Homo sapiens: one gene and its partners. The protein of the gene in region 3 interacts with the protein of the main gene of each other region in a pairwise test. Each region holds a gene or a part of one and is shown on either strand. Other genes may lie near its edges.

What was found. Proteins that work in one complex are often made in the same cells at the same time.
Region 1: the proteins of ENOX2 (region 3) and CIB3 interact in binary tests that used the Homo sapiens proteins (3 or more experiments, as listed by UniProt).
Region 2: the proteins of ENOX2 (region 3) and MAGEA11 interact in binary tests that used the Homo sapiens proteins (3 or more experiments, as listed by UniProt).

The regions. Positions count from the first base shown.
Region 1 is NC_000019.10:16,170,512-16,177,930, forward strand, and holds the start of CIB3 (calcium and integrin-binding family member 3), read right to left. Parts: upstream 3,015-7,419; 5' UTR 2,965-3,014; coding exon 2,914-2,964; intron 2,686-2,913; coding exon 2,651-2,685; intron 1-2,650. UniProt on the Homo sapiens protein: Acts a an auxiliary subunit of the sensory mechanoelectrical transduction (MET) channel in hair cells. Plays a role in regulating hair cell MET channel localization and function.
Region 2 is NC_000023.11:149,715,035-149,717,782, reverse strand, and holds the end of MAGEA11 (melanoma-associated antigen 11), read right to left. Parts: intron 2,180-2,748; coding exon 2,106-2,179; intron 2,031-2,105; coding exon 1,007-2,030; 3' UTR 515-1,006; downstream 1-514. UniProt on the Homo sapiens protein: Acts as androgen receptor coregulator that increases androgen receptor activity by modulating the receptors interdomain interaction. May play a role in embryonal development and tumor transformation or aspects of tumor progression.
Region 3 is NC_000023.11:130,893,177-130,900,215, forward strand, and holds part of ENOX2 (ecto-NOX disulfide-thiol exchanger 2), read right to left. Parts: intron 1-7,039. UniProt on the Homo sapiens protein: May be involved in cell growth. Probably acts as a terminal oxidase of plasma electron transport from cytosolic NAD(P)H via hydroquinones to acceptors at the cell surface.

The DNA.
Region 1 (7,419 bases), on a different chromosome or scaffold from region 3:
CTTCCTCTCCTTATAATGGGAGGAAGAGGCCGGATGCAGCGGCTCATGCCTGTAATCCCAGTACTTTGGGAGGCCGAGGCGGGTGGATCACCAGAGGTCAGGAGTTCGAGACTAGCCTGGCCAACATGGTGAAACCCCATCTCTACTGAAAATACAAAAAATTAGCTGGGCGTGGTGACGGGCACCTGTAATCCCAACTACTCGGGAGGCCGAGGCAGGAGAATCACTTGAACCTGGGAGCTGGAGGTTGCAGTGAGCTGAGATCGTGTCACTGCACTCCAGCCTGGGCAACAAGAACGAGACTCTGTCTCAAAAAAAAAAAAGAAAAGAAAAAAGAAAGAAAGAGGCCGGGCGCGGTGGCTCACGCCTGTAATTCCAGCACTTTGAGAGGCCGAGGCAGGTGGATCACGAGGACAGGAGATCAAGACCATCCTGGCTAACATGGTGAAACCCCGTCTCCACTAAAAATATAAAAATTTAGCCAGGCGTGGTGGTGGGCGCCTGTAGTCCCAGCTACTCCGGAGGCTGAGGCAGGACAATGGTGTGAACCCGGGAGGCGCAGCATGCAGTGAACCGAGATCAAGCCAGTGCACTCCAGCCTGGGCAACAGAATGAGACTCGGTCTCAATAAAAAAAATAAATAAATAAAAAATAAAAAAGAAAGAAAGAAAAGAAGAAAGAAAGAAAAAAAAGGAGGGATTCCTCAATGGGGCAGAGCAGAGACAAACAGCTAATAGTCACATTTTTTCTAAAGGGCAGACAAAAGATATTTTGCAAATAACTGAATACCACACACACTATCCAGATTATAAGGCCAGTTCTCCACTCAGAAGCCCTCACCTGTGACACCATACCTTCATTAGGGCATGCTGAGCAGCAGCCTTGCAGAGACCATCCTTGGTGGGTCTGAGGTCCCCAAGCTGCTAGGGACTGTCTCTGAGAGAGACATGAGTCCCTAGGTCATATGATGACTAGGAACTCAATGAAGGTGGGGTGGGGAGACCTAGAACTTTCATCCTGACCACTCAGTTCCCTGTCGGGGTCCCATCAGGGAATACCCTGGGTTTAGGTTTCTGTGTGGCTCTGAGCATGTTCCTCTCCTCTCCCTCTCTGTGCCTTGGTTATTCTATCTGATAAGCAAGAAGCTTGGGACAGACAAAATGTCTGTCCTTGGGGCCTTGGGGCTCTGTGCATTTACCCTTCAGCCTGGGATCAGCCCCGCCCTGTCTGAGCCTCAGTTTCCCCATCAGTAATTTGATCGTGATGGCCGAGGTGACCCTGCAAGCTGTCCTCACCCAAACAATGGGGCTCACTAGTAAAAGGTGTGGCCATCAATAATGGATGTCCTGTTACTACACAACTGGGGCCTTGGCCCCGATCACACTGCAGCTGAACCCTGGCCAGCTTGGGTTTCATAGCTCCAAGTTCATGGGTCGGGGCCCCTGGGCAATGGCCCCACAGGCCGAGTGATGATGTGGGATACTCATCTGTGCCCATCGTGCTGGGTCACGCCAGGGACCTGCAGCAGCCTTGGGCCACCTCCTCACACCCTCATCTTAATGCCAAGCCCACAACCCAGACTGGGCTCTGGACTTTGCACCTGGGCTCCCAGCCTCAAGTCCCAGTCTCAGGAGAATCTTTATCTTTCATTTTGTTTTTCTGAGGCAGAGTCTAGCTCTGTCACCCAGGCTGGAGCACAGTGGCGTGATCTCGGCTCACTGCAACCTCCACCTCCCAGGTTCAAGCAATTCTCCTGCCTCAGCCTCTTGAGTAGCTGGGATTACAGGCACCCACCACCTCGCCCAGCTGATTTTTGTATTATTAGCAGAGATGGGGTTTCACCATGTTGGCCAGGCTGATCTTAAACTCCTGACCTCAGGTGATCCACCCACCTTGTCCTCCCAAAGTGCTGGGATTACAGGCATGAGCCACCGCGCCCAGCCTCAGGAGAATCTTTCTAACGTGCTGATGGTCTCTCCCCTGCTCATGCATGCTCCATAGCTCCCTGCCACCCTTGGGAGAAAGCCCAAGCTCATCAGCCTAGAGACTGGGACAGTATGACAAGATGTGACTTGTCAGCTTCTCCATCTCTGCCTCTGTCCACTGACCACACCTGCCCCCCTTCCCCATTTGAGTCCCAACAAATTGGAAATACCAGTTGGGCATGGTGGCTCACACCTGTAATCCCAGCACTTTGGGAGGCTGAGGCAGGGGGATCGCTTGAGCCCAAGGGTTTAAGACCAGCCTGGGCAACATAGTGAGAGCCCCATCTCTATAAAAAAATACAAAAATGAGGTACATGTGGTGGCTCGCACCAGTGGTCCTAGCTACTCGAGAGGCTGAGGTGGGAGGATCACCTGACCTTGGGAGATCGAGCCTGCAATGAGCCATGATTGCACCACTGCACTCCAGCCCAGGCAATAGAGACAGACCCTGTCTCAAAAAAAAAGAAAAGAAGGAAGGAAGGAAGGAAGGGAGGGAGGGAGGGAGAGAGAGAGAGAAAAGAGAAAGAAAGAAAGAAAGACTACTTACACACACACACACACACACACACACACACACACACACACACACCAAATTGCAAATATCCTCCAGCAATGAATAGAAAGTTGTTTTTCCAGATCTTCTCTCCCTTCCTCCCTGGACTGACCTCATGATCTCCTTCCTTGTGAAAAATGTGCAGTCCTGTGGAGAGAGGTGTTGTCTTAACCCGAACCCTGCCTCTGGGGCCTCCTCCCACGGCCTCCTCCCTCCACCCCACACTCACACAGATGGCCTGATGCTGCCACACACAGAGCAGAACCAGGAACCCAGGCGGACGGTACACCCAGATGAAGGCATTCTGTTCCCATTTCCCAGACCACGGAACCAAAGTTGTCAAACCCACTGAGGACCCATCCTGCCCCCCTCTACCTGATACGCTTCCAGCTGCTCGTGTGTGAAGACTGTCTGCTTGTTGCCCATGGTGTGAACCACAGCCCAGACTTGGGGATGCACCCCAAAGGCTCCCAGCTTCCTCGGGGCCACACGGGTTGCCAGGCTGTTGTGTACCAGTGTCTGGGCAAATCTCCCTGCCCTGGCTGTCACCCACCCACCTACGCCATCACCCCCTGCTTGATGAGACTCAAATTACAGCCAGGCTCTCTGGACAACAGCCTGAATGTGTCCATGGGTAAGGATAAGGGCTGTGGGATGTCACAGAGAAGACCTCAGTGGGGAGGCCACATCTGCCACCACAAGGTGAGGCTGGGGTTATGGGGCACACTCAAGAGACAGGCAGGGTATACAGAAGGGCTATGGGCACACTGCAGCTCAAATCCCAGCTCTCTGCCCACTAGCTGTGTGGCCCTGGGCAAGTCACCTGACTTCTCTGAACCTCATTCATGAGATGAAAATTACATTATACCTACCTCATAGGGTCATTCTCAGGATCTGAGATTTAAAAAAAAAAAAAAAAGGTTTTGACTGGGCAAGGTGGCTCACACCTGTAATCCCAGCACTTTGGGAGGGCCAGGCAGGCGGATCACCTGAGGTCAGGAGTTCAAGACCAGCCTGGCCAACACGGCAAAACCCCATCTCTACTAAAAATACAAAAATTAGCTTGGCATTGTGACACATGCCTGTAATCCCAGCTACTCCAGAGACTGAGGCAGGAGAATTGCTTGAACCCAGGAGGTGGAGGTTGCAGTGAGCCGAGATCCCGCCATTGCACTCCAGACTGGGTGACAGAGTAAGACTCCATCTCCAAAAAAAAAAAAAAGGTTTTGGCTGGGCGAGGTGGCTCATACCTGTAATCCCAGCACTTTAGGAGGACAAAGCATGAGATTCACTTGAGGCCAGGAGTTCAAGATCAGCTTGGGCAGCATGGCAAGGCCCTATCTCTACTAAAAATACAAAAATTAGCTGGATGTGGTGGTGCATGCCTGTGGTCCCAGCTACTCAGGAGGCTGAGGTGGGAGGATTGCTTGAGCCCAGGAGTTTGAGGCTGCAGTGAGCCATGATTGCATCACTGCATTGGGAACATAATGGTGAACAAGCTAGATGAAGTTCTGGGGTGTGCATTGACATTATTATTTTATTACATTTTATTTTTTTGAGACAGTCTCACTCTGTTGCCCAGGCTGGAGTGCAGTGGTGTGATCTCGGTTCACTGCAATCTCTGCCTCCCAGGTTCAAGTGATTCTCCTGCCTCAGCATCCCAGGTAGCTGGGACCACAGGTGTCCACCATGCCAAGCTAATTTTTTTTGTATTTTTTTTTTTTGAGACGGAGTCTCGCTCTGTCACCCAGTCTAGGGTGCAGTGGCGTGATCTCGGCTCACTGCAAGCTCCACCTCCCGAGTTCAGGCCATTCTCCTGCCTCAGCCTCCCGAGTAGCTGGGATTATTACAGGCGCCCACCACCACGCCTGGCTAAGTTTTGTATTTTTAGTAGAGACAGAGTTTCACTATGTTGGCCAGGCTGGTCTCGAACTCCTGACCTCAGGTGATCCACCCGCCTCGGCCTCCCAAAGTGCTGGAATTACATGTGTGAGCCACCTCGCCCGGCCCAAAGGGCAGATCTAATGTAGCAGCTACCAACTTTATTAAGGCCCAGAATCCTCTTGGGTGGAGAATCTGAGAGTCTAAATTTCTTAGCCTGGCCCTCCATGCCCTTCTCACTTTGGGTCTCACCTGTGTTTTCTCTACCTGGCCTGGACTATTGCAATGTTTCCCAGCAGGCTTTCCTGCCTCGGCCTCATCAAGCATCCTCTGCCAAATCTGTGCAGTCATCTTGTAAAATGTGACCCTGATCAGGCTTGAAAGATGCCTCAAGGATGACTTTTTTTTTTTTTTGAGACAGGGTCTCACTCTGTCACCCAGGCTGGAGAGCAGTGATACAATCATGGCTCACTGCAGCGACCCTCCTTCCTCAGCCTCCCAGGTAGCTGGCACTAGAGGCACATGCTGCCACATCCGGCTAATTTTTTTTTTTTTGTATTTTTTGTGGAGACAGGGTCTGTCTATGTTGCCCAGGCTGGTCTTGAACACCTGGCCTCAAGTGATCTACCCACCTTAGCCTCCCAAAGTGCTGGGATTACAGGCATGAACCACCATGCCCAGCCATCCAAGAATAACTTTCAAAAAATAAACAATATCAAGTGTTGGTGAGGGTATGGAGCAACTGGAATGCTCATACATTGCTGGTGTTGATGCAAAATGGTATAGACACTCTGGAAAATAGGTTGGCTGGGTTTTTTTTAAATAGAATTAAACTTAACCTTACCACAAGATTCAGGGCCTGGTATGGTGGCTCATGCCTGTAATCCCAGCACTTTGGGAGGCCAAGGCAAGAGGACCACTTTAGCCCAGGAGTTGGAGACCAGCCTAGGCAACATGGTGAAGCCCCATCTCTACAAAAATACAAAAATTAGCCAGGTTTGGTGGTATCCAGCTACTTGGGAGGTTTGCTTGAGGTAGGGAGGTCGAGGATGAAGTGAGCTATGATCACTCCACTGTACTGCACTCCAGCCTGGGAGACAGAGTGAGATCCTGTCTCAAAAAAAAAAAAAAAAAAAGACTCCTGGGTGTTTACCCAAGGGAAATAAAAACCTATGTTCAACTGAGAGTGACCCCTAATGTAAACTATCCACTAACCACTGTGGGTGATAATGATGTATCAGTGTCAGTTCATCAATTGTAACAGACTAGCTACTGTCATGCACTTGCATGTGGAGGATGTTGATTGTAGGGGAAGCTATACAAGTATGAAAGCAGCAGGTGTACGGGAAATCTCTGTACCTTCTGATCAATTTTGCTGTGAAACTAAGACTGCTCTAAAAAAATAAAGTATAGTGTAAAAAAAAAATTTAAACTAGGTTCACACAAAAACCTGTCATGCCCACAGAATGGGACAAATGCTCAGTGCTCAAGTCATTTATATAAAATGGCATAATATTTGCATATAGCCTGTGCACATCTTCCATACACTTTATTTATTTATTTATTTATTTTTATTTTACTTTTTCGAGTTGGAGTCTGGCTCTGTCACCCAGGCTGGAGTGCAGTGGCGTAATCTCAGCCCACTGCAACCTCTGCCTCCTAGGTTCAAGCAATTCTCCTGCCTCAGCCTCCCTAGTAGCTGGGATTACAGGTGCACACCACTGTGTCCAGCTAATTTTTATATTTTTAGTAGAGACGGGGTTTTGCCATGTTGGCCAGGCTGGTCACAAACTCCTGACCTCAAGTGATCCGGCCCACCTTGGCCTCTCAAAATGCTGGGATTACATGGGCCACCATGCCCGGCCCTCCATAGACTTTAAATTATCTCTAAATTATGTATAATATCTAATGAAATATAAATGCTACATAAATAATTGTTACACATTTTTATTTGTATTCTTTTTATTGTTGTATTATTTTTATTTTATTGGTTCCAGGTATTTTCACTCCGTGGTTTATTGAATCCATGGATAAGGAAACTGGATATGAAGGGCTAACTGTATTTGTGAATCATATATCTCATAAGGAACTACTATTCAGAATATATAAAGAACTCTCAGGGCCGGGCGCACGCCTGTAATCCCAGCACTTTGGGAGAATGAGGTGGGTGGATCACCTGAGGTCAGGAGTTAGAGACCAGCCTGGCCAACATAGTGAAACCCTGTCTCTACTAAAAATACAAAAAATTAGCCAGGTGTGGTGGTGGGCGCCTGTAATCCCAGCTACTCGGGAGGCTGAGACAGGAAAATCGCTTGAACCTGGGAGGGGGAGGTTGCAGTGAGCTGAGATCGTGCCACTGCACTCCAGCCTGGGCAACAAGAGCGAGACTCTATCTCGAAAAAAACCAAAAAACAAAACCCACGATAAAAACTAAGAACTCTTACATCTCAAAACTAGAAAGACAACCCAAATAAAAACATTATGCTGATCAAGGTAACTTTTGCAAAAAAGAGAAAAGAAGAAAACAAAAACATTATGTTGAGTGAAAGAAGCTAGAGATGAACAGTCCCATATAGTGTGATTCTATTTACATGAAATGTGCACACCACCACACCTGGCTAATTTTTTAAATTTTTGTAGAGATGGGATCTCACCATGTCGTTCAGACTCGTCTCTACCTTCTGAGCTCAACTGATCCTCCCACCTCACCCTCCTAAGTAGCTGGGACCACAGGCAGGTGCCACCGCACTCGCTAATTTTTTGTATTTTTTTTTTATTCCACTTGGGTAAATATCGAGGGGTAGGATTAATGGCTCATATTCAGTATATAAGAAACTTGCCAAACTTCTTCCTAAAGAGGCTGCACTAGTTTGCTTTCTCACCATCAGTGTTTGTAGGTTCTAGTTATTTCACATCTTCTCCAGCAGTTACTATTTTCAGTTTTTTATTTACTTTTATATTTTAATTAATTAATTAATTAATTTATTTATTTATTTATTT
Region 2 (2,748 bases), about 19 Mb from region 3:
TCCACAGTGTCCTTCTTTTGGCCACTTGAGAGACATTATGCAGTACTGAGAAAACAAATGAATTAAGGGACAGAGGTGTACTTCAGGCTGCAAAGAGTGAGAATAGAATGGGCTCTAGATGAATTCAGGCCAACCTTGTGGTTTACCAGTGATATGATCTTGGGAAAGTTACCAAGCACCATGAGACTCAGGTTCATCCAGAAAATGGGTTTGATAGACCATTTTTTTAGGACTGTTGTAATGTATAAAATGTATTAAAACACCTGGGATGATGCCTGGCATGTACTGGATATTTAATGATTGACAGCTATTTCTAGTATTACTGTGACCCCAGGTGCTACCACTCTCTACTTTGGAATATTTTTTATTGTCCAGGACATCTCAGAGAATCTGCAACTCAGTAGGAAACTGCATTTCCTTGGTGAATATGTATGTGGGGGGAGGGGGGTGTACATGTGTGTATGGGTGTGTACTTTCATAGAACAACAGATTAATATGGATAAGAAGACAAGAATTAATGACCTTCTCCTTTTATTTCTCTGTTTCACAACACCAGTTCAGCTTTATTGTTAAGTTCTTACATTCTCCAAGAAAATACCTATTGCAAATCACAGCAAGATGGAAGATTTCCCAAAATGTTTTACAAAATGGCAAACACTTGCACTTGAAATGGATAAGCAAAACAACATGTGTGGTCAGTATCATCCATACACTTAGATGTTGAAGCTAACTAAAACTTTTATTACAGGAACAATATTTGAAAATTACCAAAGGGAAACAAAAAGAAATCTCCAAGTCACCCGATGGAAGAGAAACCTAAAGGCAGTATACAATGTGTTCCCTTCCATTCACTGTGCCTTCTACTACTGAGAACACTGACTTCTCTCATCAAACACAGAGGGAAGAATGGGCCTGATTTCACACAGGACAGGGAAACTGCTGGGTGTGGCCCTGAAGCATGCATTGGCCCATTTCCCTGCCCGCTGGCCCTGGTTGCATCTCATGCTCAGACTCCCTCTCCCTCCTCTCTCAAAGCATCTTCATACAGGGATGGGTAAGAAGTGGGATCCCTCCCATTGGCATTGGCTATGTACTCAAGAACTTTCATCTTGCTGGTCTCAGCGTGGGCCCTTGGACCCCACAGGAACTCATAGCATGCAGGATCAGTGCCGGGCACCTGCCGGTACACCAGGTACTTTTCCTGCACCCAATTTTGGGTAAGGAGCCTCTTGGGCTCCCCAAAGAGGAAGTGCTCCCTTCCAGCATACACCCCCATAATGCTCAGGACTTCCCACATAACCTCTTCAGGGATGCAGTTCCCCTCCATGAAGATTACACCCAGGACTATTATCAGGAGGCCAGACTTGGGCATGCTCTGCTCATTACACTGTATGCCATCATAAGAGAGGTTGAGGGAGGTGACAAGGACATAGGAGTGGCTAGTGGGGTCCACTTCCTTCACATCAATGCCAAAGAGCAGTTGCATGCATACAGAGGCTTCCCTAAATATCTCAGGAAAGTAGTCCTCATAATTTTTGATGACACTCCCCAGCATTTCTGCCTTTGTGATCAGCCCCTTGACTCGATACTTGCGGAGCAATAAATGAACCAAATCAATTATCTTGTCATGTAGTATATCTTGGGAAAAGGACTCAGGGTCTATCAGGTCAGGCGAGGTACTTGGCCCCTCCTTTTCTTGGCTGCCAGAGCCCTCATCAGATAGGCTCCCAAAGATGGCATCCATGGCAGTGGGAGAGAAGGACTCTTCCTGAGGACTCTGGGGAGGACTTGGTGACTCAGCAGCAGGCAACTCCTCTAGAGTGCCCACATTCAGAGTAGAGGAGAAGAAGGCAGCCTCCTGCTCCTCAGCTTGGAGAGCCTGTGCACCCACCAGGCCCAGGTCTTCTTCTTGGGCCTGAAGGCCTTCCTCAGGCTTGCAGTGCTGACTTCTTTGCTCAAGAGGCATGATGACTCTGGTTAGGTCAGCAGGCCGAACTGTGGGAAATATCTGGGTGATGGGGCCCCACAGCCTGGGGAGAGAGGGAGCGTGAGAACAGACTCAGATGAGATATGAACCATGGAGAATCTAACAAAGGCCTACTTACACTTGTTCTCCTCCAGTGATCCTCTGGGTTCTCCTGGGACTCCTGTCCTCCAGGTTGGCCTGTTCTCTAAAAACCTGAAAAAGGAAGTGAGAAGGCTGCTCAAGATGCAGCTGGACATCAGAGCAGGAGGCTCCAGGACTGAGGTAGGGCAGGTGAGGTTGCAAGCTGGGGGTCCCTTTCTGTACTGGGGCAGGTGGGGCCATTTGTAGATTAAGGGTGAACATCTCATCTTGACTACTGGCACTGCCTAGGCTTCCTGTGTTCTGAGATCTGAAGACATTGCTTGAGACCAAGGCCTCACTGCTCAGTTTTTGGAGCTTCTAGAAGAGGAATCATGGGGCCATCAGGCTGCAGACTGCAAGCACCCATCCTGGCACCCCAGCACTGTCAGAAAGGTGGGCCAAACTCTGTGAGTTTCTCACTTTTTTGGAGTGGATGGTCCCCTCTGTGCTCAGGGCCCTCACCTTTCTCCTGCCAGGGCCTGGAAGACACAGCTCTCCTGACCTGAGAAACTCTCAGATCAATAGCTCTTTCCTGATATGAAAGAGGACATGTGGGGATACACATCTGGCCACATGTACACAGGGCTACCCAGGAAGGACAGCAAGAGATGGTGACAGTCAGCAGGGTCCATGTGTCCTCG
Region 3 (7,039 bases):
TGCAATTTTTCTATATTTAAAAGTACTTCAAACTAGAAAGTTAAAAGATAATTTGTTGAGCACCAACCTCTTTTACCTAGTGTCTCAGTTGCCATTTTCAGTAGTGAGGGCATTGGGTTAATAGTAGAGATATTGGAAACAATGGTGGAAGGGTGGGGAAAAATAACAGTCACAGATATATATTGGGGGCCTACTATATGCAAGACACTGTGCTAGGCACTTTGGGGAATTCAAAGAAGTAAAAAATACAGCCCCTGAGAGGGCTCCCACTGTAAGTAATGGAATGCCAAAGCAGTGTCTGAAAGGGTAACTGGCTGGAGCAGAGTTCTGTAAGACAGAAGTACAAAGATTAGAAAGGTAGGTTGGAGCCAGATTGCAGACAGTACTAAAGGTCAGGCTGAAGAGTTTGGACTTCATCCTATGGATAATGGGAAGCCATTTACAGTATCTGAGTCAGGGAAAGAACATGATCTAAAACTGACTGGCTAGATGGTACAATTTGTTTGGGCACAGGTACCTTCAACATGCATTTGTTTTATATTCATGTACATCTGGTACGTCTATCCACTTCCCATATCTGGATGTGACGTTTAAGGATTTCCAACATGCTGGTTGCTGCTTATTTTTCAAATAGCCACTTCCTGACATCTCTTCAGCCTTTCCTTTTTCCTCCCCCAAATCCCAAGGGCAGCTGACCAGCACGTGCCTCAGCCCTGCTGACTCAGCAAGCAATAAATACGCCTCATAGAATGCTTTTGAAATGAAGCTGCTGTGCTTCAAAACTGATTTCTTTCCTTCATGATAATCAAACCTCAATTACTGCTGGAATCACTGATTTGAGTTGGAAAGAATGAATATTCATCTGAGTAACATGTGAAGGAGTGCAGGAAGTTATGTCCTGTGTGCAGAAGGAAACAATTGTTCAAAGTGATCTCTGTATATGGAAAGAAACCCTAGCAGAGATGGCATTGCTGAATAGTAGCAAGTGATTAGGGTAAAACCTCTCAAAGACTGCCAAATTAGAAAGTGGACTTTATAATCCTTTGGATATACACCCAGTAATGGGATTGCTTGGGTCAAATGGTATTTCTGGTTCTAGATCCTTGACCATGGCACATGTATACCTATGTAACAAACCTGCACGTTCTGCACAGTATCCTAGAACTTAAAGTAAAATTTAAAAAAAAAAGAAAAAAAAAAAAGAAAATTTCCTGATGTCTATGATGGTATTGTAGCTATATATGGAATATCCTTTTTTTTTTTTTTGGTAGAAGATTCAAATAAAATATTCAGAAATGATGAAGCATCATATTAAAATTTTATTCTCAAATGGTTATTTTAATATTCTTTATACCATTCTTTCAACTTTTTTCTAAATTGAAAGTATTTCAAAATAAAAATAATAAAAAAAAAGAAAGTGGACTTCATCTGTCTTCAGCTTTTCCCCCCATGAAGTCCAACCTCCAGTGCAATCATGTTACTCCTCCCATTTAAAACCCTGTGTTCACTCATCCCTACATATAGGACAATGGCCATACTTCTTAGCAAGCTGACTTACTTCACCCAACCAGCCACAGGATACCTTTCCAGACTCTTATCCTGTCCCCCTTTCCCATGCTTTCAGTGGTTCACACACAATATCTTACCTTTTTCTGAACTATGCAGTTTTACACATTTGACTGCCTTGCATGTGTTGATGGTCCCTCTGCCTGGAATCCTTGCCCATCACCTCTTTGTCCACATAGAGACTAGGCAATGCCCCTCATCCTTTATGATTCAGCACAGTTAGACTCTGATCTCTAAGTTGTCCACCCCCAGCTGTAATTCCCTCCTCCATATTCCCAGAACACCTTCTCTCTCTTTTGGGTGCTTTTCACATCAAAATACGATCACTGGTTTGAGTGTCTATCTCCCCTATTAGACTGTGAGCTCCTTAAGGGCAGGGATTACATCACATCAAATTCATTATTATAGTCCTGGTGTTTAGCATAGGGTCTGGTCCTGTATATATGCTCAAATGTCTATTGAATGAATGAGTTTGAACATCAAGTACTCCTTGAAGTCAAACTCAGCATCTCTTGAAAGGTGAAAATTAGAATGGTATGTGACCAGAGTAATCCTAGTGAAGTATGTTTGAGGACCTGACTGAAGAAAAGCTGATAGGAGGACACCTTATGGGGGCTTATTGTGGGGCAGTTTCTATCCCAGGAAACTCTTATTAGCAGTTGTTGCTGGCTAAAAATGAAGAGCAGCTGGAGCAGATGACAAGGGCCCTTACTGGGGATTTCTCCATCCTTATCTTTCATAGTTCACCACTAAAGCAATGTTGTTCTCTGAAGTAACATTTTCCATAGTGTCTCAATTCTCCTGAATGATTGCCATATTCATTTGTGCTCTGCCTACCGAGGCATTTGGACCAGCTTTGTTAAAGTGTGGTCACTGAAAGCTCTTTGATTCTTCTACTCACCTATCGTTATTATGCTAAAGAACAACATTTTGTGAGTAAGAGACCACTGAAAAACAGAGCACCAGAAAGGGGAGGGAAGCAGAGCTAATAAAAATTATCTTTTTTCTCCTCCTAGATTGCCAATGTATTTCACCATGTTTCCATCCTACAGTGTTTTATACTATGTATCAGTAAAGGCAAAAAAAGGAAAATTAAGACTTCAGCAAAACTTTACACTTTGTAGGCAAGAAAAAAAGGAAGCAACACTGAGGGATAGAACATAAATCTTTAGACATATGATCAGTAGCCATTTCTGAAAAGTACACATTTGGGCTGTTTTAAACAAATAGCAAAAAGCAATTAGGTCTTTCTGACTAAACTGAGGTGTATGCTGATTTCTTTTTTTAAACTAAGTCTGTTTTGATCTTCAAAAATGTCAGACTGGTAAACACTTTACTTTTTTGCACATATAAATCTAAGAGCCAAGCCTAGCTTGAGGAAGATTTAAGAGACATAAAATTTGTCTGAGGTGTCTGCCAAATCTCTACAGCAGAGACAGAAACCCTGGAAAAGCTGACACAATCATAACTCTCACATCACCAGCAGGCTTGTGCAGGGCTGGGAAGCACAGAAAGTCACTGTTCCTTCTCTCATACTGTTTGTAAACAGAGAAGCAGATCATTTGCTTATCAGCTATCTGGTAGCTCATTTTTGCCTAGCTATCCCACTGAGAAAAAAAAAACAAAAAAACACACATCCCCACGGGTACATATCCCAGTTTTCAGCTGGGTGAATTTTCATTTATAAGATGGGCCCGCTTGTTAAAATTTTCTCTTTTATTTGCTCTTGAATTCTCTTACTCTTGTGTGCTTGCTTGCTCTCTCTCTCCCTTGTTCTTTCTCTTTTTATACAGAAGGCATTAAAAGGGGTATTTATGAGTATCTAGTGCAGTGCCTAACGGAGTGCTTTCACATAGTAAGCCTACAATAATTCATCGAATGAAGTGAAACCCTATCTGTAATTTCTACATTCAAATTATTTGATCATGTAGCAGGAAAACTATAGATTTTTTTTCCTGGAGTATTTAAAAGTAACAATTCCTTATAAAGAAATATTTTACTCAGATGACTCATGCTTAGGACTTCCATCCCTTAGAAATCATCCATTTTTGCACAATGGGTATTATCTGTAAGGAAAATGAAGGGAAGACTACACTTCAGGATCCTGAATGACCACTGATACGTTATTGTAGAGAAAATCAGATATCCTATATACACTCGACTGTATGTCGTATGGTAATCCACTACATATGTCTAAAATCACTTAACAATGCAAGAATATAGTGCACACATGGGCTGCGTTCTGTAAGTAGGATTAACTATTGAATTCAACCAAGGTCTTCCCTGGGGACAGATTGCTGGAAAATACATCTACATGACATTTAAAAAAATAAATTAACCAATGACATCGGCTCCCATGAGACACATTGTTTCTTGTACATTCAATTCTATCACGGTTTTCTGTAGCTCTCTGTTGACATACCCATCCCAAATGACACAGAATTTCAAAAAATAAAGAAAAACAGAGCAACTGGAGCTATTCCATCTCTCCTGTGTGAAGTGTTATGTACACAAAGGAAAGATTTCCGTACATGAGCACAATGTGAACCACGACAGGGTGAGATCATGTCAGTTGGCTGTTCTTGTTATGCTGTGGTCACATATAACTTGCCCAAGGGAGTGTACAAAGCCTGTTTTCTTCCTGACAAGGACCAGCAGGGATTGCTGGAAAATAAAGAAAACAGAGTTATGGCAGGAGGTTTTAAATTTTCTCTTTAAAAAATGCCCTTTATTATGATAACTTTTCTTCTCGCTTTGATGTATTTAGTTTTCCTCATCTGTAAAATAGGAATAACTATTTTATGTGTTTAATATTTTTGCTCTGAGAATTAAATACCAGTAGATTGCCTGGCATAAAATAGCTAATCCATACAGTCCACATCAACATTGGCTAACATTAATTAAATACCTATTATGTGCCTGCCACTGGCCAAAGACCCCCCAAAAAAGTAAATCACAGAAGGAAAACCTAATACTAGAGGAGCAAGCAGGGAGCTGATTTTCAAAGCTTTTATCAGGCAGTCTAAGAAGTCTGGATATTACTCTGAAGACAATGGACAGCCTTTGAACTATTTTATATAGAGACCAGATGGTTTTAGATTTGTGATTTACAAAAATCATTCTGTCAGCATTGGTAAAGAGTAGACTAGAAGGGAAGCAGGCTGGAAGCAGCAGTAATCCAGGCTAGAAGTGATGCATGTGTGTTGGGGGGTGGAAGGTATGCCCCAAAGTAAGACAATGGTGGACACCGGGAAAACATTTTAAAATAACTTTTTTTTTTTTTGAGACAGAGTCTCACTCTGTCTCCCAGGCTGGAGTGTAGTGGTGCAATCTTGGCTCACTGCAACCTCCGCCTCCTGGGTTGAAGCAATTCTCCTGCCTCAGCCTCCCGAGTAGCTGGGATTACAGGCGCATGCCATCACGCCCGGCTAATTTTTGTATTTTTAGTAGAGACGGGGTTTCCCCATGGTGGCCAGCCTGGTCTCAAACTCCTGACCTCAGGTGATCCGCCTGCCTTGGCCTCCCAAAGTGCTGGGATTACAGGTGTTAAGCCACTGTGCCTGGTCAAAATAACTTTTTAAAAATTAACAAATATACTGTAGATTAGAAAATAAAAATACGCAAAAGGTTAAAAGTAGAAGTCATATGCAATCTTACTACTTGCAGCAAACCCCTATTAATATTTTTTTGTGTGTTTACCATTACAGGATTTTTCCTATGTATGCCTACACAGATGTGTGTGTGCGTGTGCGTGTGTGTGTGCGTGTGTGTGTGTGTATTATGTATATGTTTTTAAACTGGGATCTGTCACTCTGTACTGAGAGTTCTATGATGTGAATTTTCTCTTAATATATCAAAAACAATTTTCCACATCATTAAATATTGTTTGGTAAAATCAACTTACAAGGCTACTTAGTAATCCATTCTATAAATGTACCACAATTGATTTCATTCAAATCCCTAGTATTGTACATTTAAGATGTTCTTTTTTTTCTTTTTTTTTTTTTTGTTGTTTTTGCTATTAGTATAAACAACTCTGGGATAGATGTCCTGAGTATTAAATTTTTGGAAACATCATGATTGTTTCCTCAGCATAGAGCTCTAGAAGTTGAAGTGGTAGGTTAAAAGCTGTATTCTATTAAGGTTTCTGATACATATTGACGAATTGCTCTCCAGAAGAGCTGTATCAAATTATAGTCCCAGCAGCAGAGTCTATGAGTAGGAGATGAACTTGAGAGTGATGTCAAGGACGGAGTGTACTGGACTTGGGTGGGTAGAAGGAAGGATGTTTCCTGGCAAAGTATCAGGGCAGGAGGAAGATGAACTCTGTCAAGAGCAGCAAAGTAATGGGCAGGGCTAAGGAATAGGTGCCTGGATAGGTAAATGATAGGAAAGAAAAAGGTAAGATAACCAGGGGAGAGTGAAGAAAAGAGGGAAAAAGTAGGTCTTTCATGAAATTATGGGCACTTTAATTTACTCCTTTCTTCAGCAAAAGTAGCAAATGTAGCAAACAGCTAGTCTTTTCATAGCATTTGGCACTCTGTGCTACCAAGGTCCCCAGTTATATTCATGCAAATCTGTTTATCAATTCTTTTCACCCAATAACCATTTATTAGGTGACTACCATGTGTCAAGTGCTCTTCTGGATGCTATGGGTATGGAGATGAATGAAACCTGGTCCCTGCCCTCAAGGAGTTCACAGTCTAGTGGGGAACACAGAGACATCCACAGACCGACACCCTACAGTGTGGTACAGGCTAGGACGGAGGTAACTAAGTGCAGGGTCCTGTGGAAGCCCGAGGCCTAACATTGCCTTGTGCGTGCATTCATGTATGTTGGGCAAGGGCTGTCGGGAAGGCTTCACAGAGGTGTTGACATATGAGCTGAGTCTTAAAGGCTGAGGAATTTCTTGCATGCCTAAGGGTCACAGATCATGGTCATATTCCTAATCAGTGCCTTGAATATTTGTGCTACTGCTCTCAAGGACACTGAGTAAGGTGGGAAGGATGTTTGTGTGTAATCCAAATCCACTCGAGTGGTAACTATAGCTTCCATTGTAATCTTAATGAACATAGAAACATAGCATGTTTTGGCAATATTATTGCTCACCATACAATATAAAGGACAAGAGGCAAGGGGGGCATGCAGACTTTTAAAACAATTCTGGTAACACTGACAAAATAATATTAACATCCACCAAGTCCTAATAATTTTACCTCCTAAATGTTTCTCAAATCTCTTCGCTCCGCTCACGTCACTACTCTTGGGTCTTTATTGTCTCTCTGTGGAACAGAGTAGCAGCCTCATCATATCCACCTCCACTGTATCCTTCCCACTGTCATTTTCCTTACAGTAAAAATCTGATCGTGGTGCTCTTCTAAAACATGTTAATGGTTTCTTATGGCCTACAAGCAGCACTTCCCAAATTTCAGTCTGAGTATTACTTAGTGATTTTTACCATATTCACACACAA